Homo sapiens: one gene and its partner. The protein of the gene in region 1 purifies or fractionates together with the protein of each later gene. This does not show direct contact. Each region holds a gene or a part of one and is shown on either strand. Other genes may lie near its edges.

Evidence for each region. Proteins that work in one complex are often made in the same cells at the same time.
Region 2: the proteins of AKR1B10 (region 1) and ADCK5 purify together in Homo sapiens (co-immunoprecipitation; one large-scale study listed by IntAct). This does not show direct contact.

The regions. Positions count from the first base shown.
Region 1 is NC_000007.14:134,530,567-134,534,066, reverse strand, and holds part of AKR1B10 (aldo-keto reductase family 1 member B10), read right to left. Parts: intron 3,425-3,500; coding exon 3,257-3,424; intron 2,160-3,256; coding exon 2,043-2,159; intron 1,064-2,042; coding exon 986-1,063; intron 1-985. UniProt on the Homo sapiens protein: Catalyzes the NADPH-dependent reduction of a wide variety of carbonyl-containing compounds to their corresponding alcohols. Displays strong enzymatic activity toward all-trans-retinal, 9-cis-retinal, and 13-cis-retinal.
Region 2 is NC_000008.11:144,387,547-144,391,046, forward strand, and holds part of ADCK5 (uncharacterized aarF domain-containing protein kinase 5), read left to right. Parts: intron 1-1,716; exon of another isoform or gene 1,717-1,790; intron 1,791-3,124; coding exon 3,125-3,200; intron 3,201-3,309; coding exon 3,310-3,500. UniProt on the Homo sapiens protein: The function of this protein is not yet clear. It is not known if it has protein kinase activity and what type of substrate it would phosphorylate (Ser, Thr or Tyr).

The DNA of each region.
Region 1 (3,500 bases):
TTCATTGAATCATGTCAATTATAAGCATTTCAGAAAGTTGAAACATAATATATTTTTGCTTGTAAAACACAATACAAACTCGCAACTACATGCACACCTACACAGACAGCTACCAAAATAACACGATTAACTCTTGGAGTCATAAGCCACTGTTCATTTATAACTTATTCCTCCACTTCATTCTCTACTAGCATTTGCAAAAGGGTATAAATAATAAAAAATGACCAGAGAAAATGTTCATCCCTTCATTCATTTTGAATGTGAATGACGTGAAACAGGTCATGGTTAGATCTGAGAAGCAGAGCACTCAGGCTCCCTGATTTCTGGATGTGTCTTCACTGCCTGCCAAGCACCATGCTGATGGCTTTGGTGGTTGGACTTGTGATTCAGATGAGTCTGGGTCTAATCCCAGCTCTGCCACACACATTGTGACAAGACCTGGGCAAGTCATCAAACAATCTAGGTTTCAAATGTCATTATTTATAAATGGGGATGTTAACCCTGTCTCCTAGGGTTAAATGGGCTTTATGACTAATGTTCCTGGCATGTAAACCATCTTAATCTTTATCACACACTGGAAGATATATATTGGTAGTATGTATTATACAACTTCTTTTTAAGAAGAGAAAACTGAGCCCTACATGAGTTACAAAACTGACCCTAGGTTACTCAGCTGCTATGAGCACACCCAGGCCCAAACCTCCTGTTCCAAATGCCTCGCCCTGGTTTGAGAACAGCATGTGTATTCCCCAAAGTGGGGTACATTGTATTTCCAGTCTTATTTGAAGACTATTAGCCTTGAAATATAAATAGTATCAGATGTACCCAAAAGCCAAAGGTGATGAGGAAGATATTAGAAGAGCTAGAAAATCACAATGATGAAATTAGAAAGCATCAGGCACATGGCCTCATTCATATCCATGCGAATCTCATGGATAACTGAAGATTTCTCTCCCAGCACACTTAGAGGAAGCTGGGAACCTACCTCCCAGGCATCCAAGAACGTTGCTTTTCCACCGATGGCATTACCTTTATCATCTTTGGGGAAAAGGTCATCCCCAGACTGTGAACACAGAATGAAAAGTTTACTGGAATCTGCATCAGGACACTTGGTTCTGTTCAACAAGGTTTCAGGATCCTGACTCTTGCTAAATACCACATCTGCATACCACTTTTTCAAGTTCTGGAGTACATACTTTAGGAATGTGAGTTTAATTAAAATCTCTGTATCTACTGTAGCATACTAATATTTTAGAAACGACTGGCTTGACTTTAAGATTTGCTGCTAGTACATTCCAGAAGTTCATTATCACCATGGACATTAACCTCATACACCTAGATCCCATATACAACCAAGGGCAAACTTTCATTTCAATATTACTGGATAAGGATTAGATATCCAAGCTGTGGTTTTCTGGAGAAGATATTGGCCAACTTCTATCCTTGCAGCCTCTAGAAGAGGCGTGGAATTAGGGGTGGCAGGCCATCATCACTCCAGTTGGTCAGGAGGGGAGAGAGCTGGAAATTTGTCTCTCCCACCCCTCAGGAGCAGGTAAGAGCAGAGCCCCAGGCAATGGGTGCCTGGATCACTACTGGCTTCCTTCCAGCATCACCATACTTGGGCTTTTCTCCAAGATGCCACTCCCAGGTGTACTTTGCTTAATAAGATAATTATGCCCTGGAATATAGTTATGCAAGAGTAACCCAAGAGATTTCCTGGGAGGGCAACCCTGGGGCGTGGAATCAAGACAAAGGTGATATGGCAGTTGCAACTTGTCTGGGCTGCCAGAAATCATGTCTTCTCTCAGACATAACTGCAAGAAAACCCAGGCATGTGGCCACCTCAGCAGCACACATGGCCTCAACCTCCCTTCCAGGCCAGTGTGTTTCTTCTCCAAGGTCTCTTCCTGACCACCTGCCATTCCCAATTATGAAATGCAAGGCCTCCTGCCCCAGTCCACACCACCCCACAGCCCTGGTGCAGCTACTATTTTCTGGCACCTGCTCAGAAACTAGAGGCTGAGAAAGAGAGTGTCTTAAACCTTGAATCCCTGTGGCCAGTGAATAAGATAGACGTCCAGATAGCTCAGCTTCAGGTCCTTGAGGGTCTTCTCAAAGGCTTTCCTCACAAGGGGTCTCTCAAAGAAAGTGGGCCACAACTGCAAAGAGTGTAGCAATGAGCTATTAATACTGGGAAAAGGAAGGGCCACATTGTACTCATTGTCCCTGCTTTTTGATTTGCATCCTCATCTAACCCACCACAAGCCATTTGTAACAAAGCTGATTAAGATCCACGACACAGTGTGGAACATCACCAGGGCTCAGCACCTCAATGACATGTCTTAAGTGTTAAAAGCAATTGACTTTTTCAACTGTCCTAGTACTCTATACGTGTCTCAGATCATTGAAGTAAATGTGGCCACAGATTTGAAATTTGTTTACCTGTCTCAGTCTCTTCCTCAGCTGTAGGCTCTCTGAGAGCAGGAATTGTGTGTAGCTTTTAAATGTCAAGCATTCTTAGGCCTTTGGGAGCAGATGGTCCTTTATCTGACCTATCTGATAGGTCCCTTATCAAGCCTATAAGGCCCCAAGTGATAATTTTACAAAGGCTTTATCCAGACTTGGCTGCTACACAGTGAGGTCTATTTGTCCTACCAGATGTATGCATTTTCCAAGTACCTAGAACTAGTGTTATTTTTTTTCAGCAAGTTATGTATAATATAGATCCAGTGATTCTCAGCCCTCTCACACCCAACATCTTCTTCTTTTTTATAACATTGTATCCCTCACCTTTTACTAGAATGAATAAAGAAATTCATATGTGACAATAGAAAAATGCCCCTACCATTTTCTAAAATTCCCCCTGGCTGAGAGTCTCAGGGGCACAGTCACTGAGATCACAGTGCTGAAAGGGAGGCTTCAGATCAAGACCCGCCTGCACCCTTGGCCTCTGATTGCCTCTGGGCAGATGGTAGATCCCTCTGATGGGGAACAGGGAGGCCCAGGGCAGTGCAGGGTTCCATGGAACCAAGCCCACTATGGGAAAACCAACCTACAGGCAGGTGGGGCAGCCACGACATGTTCAAATATCAATAATGGCTTGGAGTATGGATAGTGTTGTATTCACGGATGTTATCAAGGCAGAGATGAAAAGGGGTACATGTAGAAAAGGCTGACAGAGTTCTTGCTGCCAACCCGACCCAGATACTTCTGCCTGCCTTGAAGTGAAGGCCTCCCACCAAATGCACCATTGCACCTTGCTGACGATGAACAGGTCCTCCCGCTTCACAGCCTTCTCTTGGATCTTCTCTTGGATGGCTTCCCCCACTTCATGTTCATTCTGATAGACATAGGCACAGTCAATGTGCCGATATCCTGCATCAATGGCCACCTTCACTGCTTCTTTCACTTTGCCAAGAGGAGACTGAAAGGCAAAAGAAAAGCTCATCACATATGTGTTTTTTTTAAGAGATGGGGCCCTGCCGTGTTGCCCAGGCTGG
Region 2 (3,500 bases), on another chromosome or scaffold:
ACCTGCCACCACACCCAGCTAATTTTTTTTTAATTTTTAGTAGAGATGGGGTTTCTCCATGTTGGCCAAGCTGGTCTTGAATTCCTGACCTTAAGTGATCCATCTGTCTCAGCCTCCCAAAGTGCTGGGATTATAGGCATGAGCCACTGCGCCTGGCCTCCACCCAGCAGTTTAGCACTCATTGATACTTTTTTTTTTTTTTGAGACAGAGTTTCACTCTTGTTGCCCAGGCTGGAGTGCAATGGTGGGATCTCCGCTCACTGCAACCTCCACCTCCTGGATTCAAGCGATTCTCCTGCCTCAGCCTCCTTAGTAGCTGGGGATTACAGGCACACGCCACCACACCCAGCTAATTTTGTATTTTTTAGTAGAGGCGGGTTTCTCTGTGTTGGTCAGACTGGTCTTGAACTCCTGACCTCAGGGGATCCGCCCGCCTTGGCCTCCCAAAGTGCTGGGATTATAGGTGTGAGCCACCACACCCGGCCTCCAACATTTTGTGAAAAACTTCAAACATACAGCAATGTTGAAAATGCTCTGTGAGGCAATGTGAAATGCAATGTGAAAATGCTTTGGGAGGCCGAGGAGGGCGGATCACGAGGTCAGGAGTTCGAGACCAGCCTGACCAACGTGGAGAAACCCCATCTCTACTAAAGATAGAAAAATTAGCTGGGCATGTGGTGGGCACCTGTAGTCCCAGCTCCTCGGGAGGCTGAGGCGGGAGAATTGCTTGAACCTGGGAGGCGGAGGTTGCAGTGAGCCTAGACTGTGCCACTGCACTCCAGTCTGGGCGACAGAGCGAGATTCCATCTCAAAAAAAAAAAAAAAATTAAATTCCTTCTCCCCCAAGCACAAGTCTGTGGGACTTTTTCACATCTTTAAGTTTTGTTACAAAAGTGTTGTGTTTACTATAACAAATTTTAATAGTAGAAAAGTTAGAGCCGGGCACGGTGGCTCACGCCTGTAATCCCAGCACTTTGGGAGGCCAAGGTGGGCGGATCACGAGGTCGGGAGATCGAGACCATCCTGGCCAACACGGTGAAACCCCATCTCTACTAAAAATACAAAAAAATTAGCCGGGCGTGGTGTTGGGCGCCTGTAGTCCCAGCTACTCTGGAGGCTGAGGCAGGAGAACGGCGTGAACCTGGGAGGCGGAGCCTGCAGTGAGCCAAGATCGCCACCACACTCCAGCCTGGGCGACAGAGCGAGACTCCGTCTCCAAAAAAAAAAAAAAAGAAACCGAAACCCTGGCCTAACCCAAGCACGCACTCCAGATGCTCTACGGGGGCCAGAGTGGGGCCTGAATGGCCGGGGGGTCGCCCTGGGTTGATGGGGGACACAGAGTCCACCTGAGCGCCAGAGCTGCGCTTCAGGAATGACTGTGGGCCCTGTCCCCAGGCAGGTACGTGAGCTTCACAGAACGCAGGGACAGGCCTCTGGCCATGGCCAGCCTTGGAGAAGCCACTCTGACCTCAGCCCCTCCCTGTGCACCTGTGTGTGGTCTGCCCGCTGCCTGGCGCCTCATTCCAGGGCTGCCCAGCTGGTCCCCAGAGTTCTCCCAGGGCTCCCACCCTGATATCCTCCTAACTGGGGCCAGGCCTGGGGACACCCCTCTACCCCATCCTCTTGCCTAAATCTCCCCCAGGAGCCCAGTACCTGCTCAACAGATACCCAGGATGTCCCCCACTTCCTGCCTTAACTGGGCTCTCTTCCCTGCAGACCTTGCCTCCCCAGGCCTTGGAGACCCACCCTCCTGGTGTCCTCCTCTCTTCCTAGTGGACCTCAGGCTGCAGGTGACCTTGACCCTCCTGTGACCTCTGCTGCCTCAGCCCTGCCCCCTTGCTGCCATCCTTTACCTTCACAGACAGCCTTGGAACCCCATCTCTCCAGAGGATGCCACCGTCCATACTGTCCCCTACCCCATCTCACCTGGGCACCCTTGAGGGTGGCAGGGAGTGAGGGTGGCATGGACACAGGCTGCCCATTCTGCAGATCTTTTTTTGTTTTTTGAGACGGAGTCTCGCTCTGTCGCCAGGCTGGAGTGCAGTGGCGCAATTTTAGCTCACCGAAACCCGCCTCCTGACTTCAAGTGATTCTCCTGCCTCAGCCTCCTGAGTAGCTGGCACTACAGGCACGCACCACCATGCCCAGCTAATTTTTGTATTTTTAGTAGAGACTAGGTTTCACCATGTTGGTCAGGATGGCCTCAATCTCTTGACTTTGTGATCTGCCCGCCTCGGCCTCCCAAAGTGCTGGGATCATAGGTGTGAGCTACCAAGCCCAGCCTCTTTTTTTTTTTTTTGAAACCGAGTTTCGCTCTTGTTGCCCAGGCTGGAGTGCAATGGCGCGATCTTGGCTCACTGCAACCTCTGCCTCTCGGGTTCAAGCAATTCTCCTGCCTCAGTCTCCCGAGTAGCTGGGATTACAGGTGTGCACCACCACACCCGGCTAATTTTTTTGTATTTTAAGTAGAAATGGGGTTTCACCATGTTGGCCAGGCTGGTCTTGAACTCCTGACCTCTGGTGATCCACTCACCTCGGCCTCCCAAAGTGCTGGGATTACAGGCGTGAGCCACTGTGCCCAGCTCTGCAGATCTTTTTTGGACGGAGTCTCGCTCTGTTGCCCAGGCTGGGGTGCAGTGGTGCAATCTCAGCTTACTGCAGTCTCCACCTCCTAGGCTCAAACGATCCTCCTGCCTCAGCTTCCTGAGGAGCTGGGACCACAGGTGTGCACCACCGTGCCTGCCTAATTTTTTTGCATTTTTGGTAGAGACAGGGTTTCAACATGTTGCCCAGGCCAGTCTCGAACTCCTGAGCTCAAGTGATCCTCCCAGCACAGCCTCCCAATGTGATGGGATAATTGACATGAGCCACCACACCTGGCCCCGTTCTACTGATCTTGAGCTGAGACTGACCTGCAGGGCCACAGGACACCCCACGAGCTCAGCAGCACCCCTTGTGCTCACACAGGCCTACGCGGCTGTAGGCTGGACCCTGGCTTGGCCTCACCCTTGGGACATGAAGGGCTGGCCGGGGTGAGGCTAGACCATGAGGGCTCTGACAAGAGGACCAAGCACCGGGGCCCCGAGCCTGCCCCGCTGGAGACTGAGGCCACCTCTGCCCGCAGGTCTCTGAAGGTCGGCCTGCAGATCTCCCTGGACTACTGGTGGTGCACCAATGTTGTCCTTCGAGGGGTGGAAGAGGTTTGTCCTGGTGCCCTGGGCACACAGTGGTGGGCATGAGGTGGTGGGCTGGGTGGGACTGAGGAGGCAGCCACCTGTCCCCATGTGTTCTCCCCATGCCTGTGGTCAGAACAGCCCAGGCTACTTGGAGGTGATGTCTGCGTGTCACCAGCGGGCGGCTGATGCCCTGGTGGCAGGGGCCATCAGCAACGGGGGCCTCTACGTGAAGCTGGGCCAGGGGCTGTGCTCCTTCAACCACCTGCTTCCCCCCGAGTATACCCGGACCCTGCGCGTGCTAGAGGACAGGGCCCTCAAGCGGGG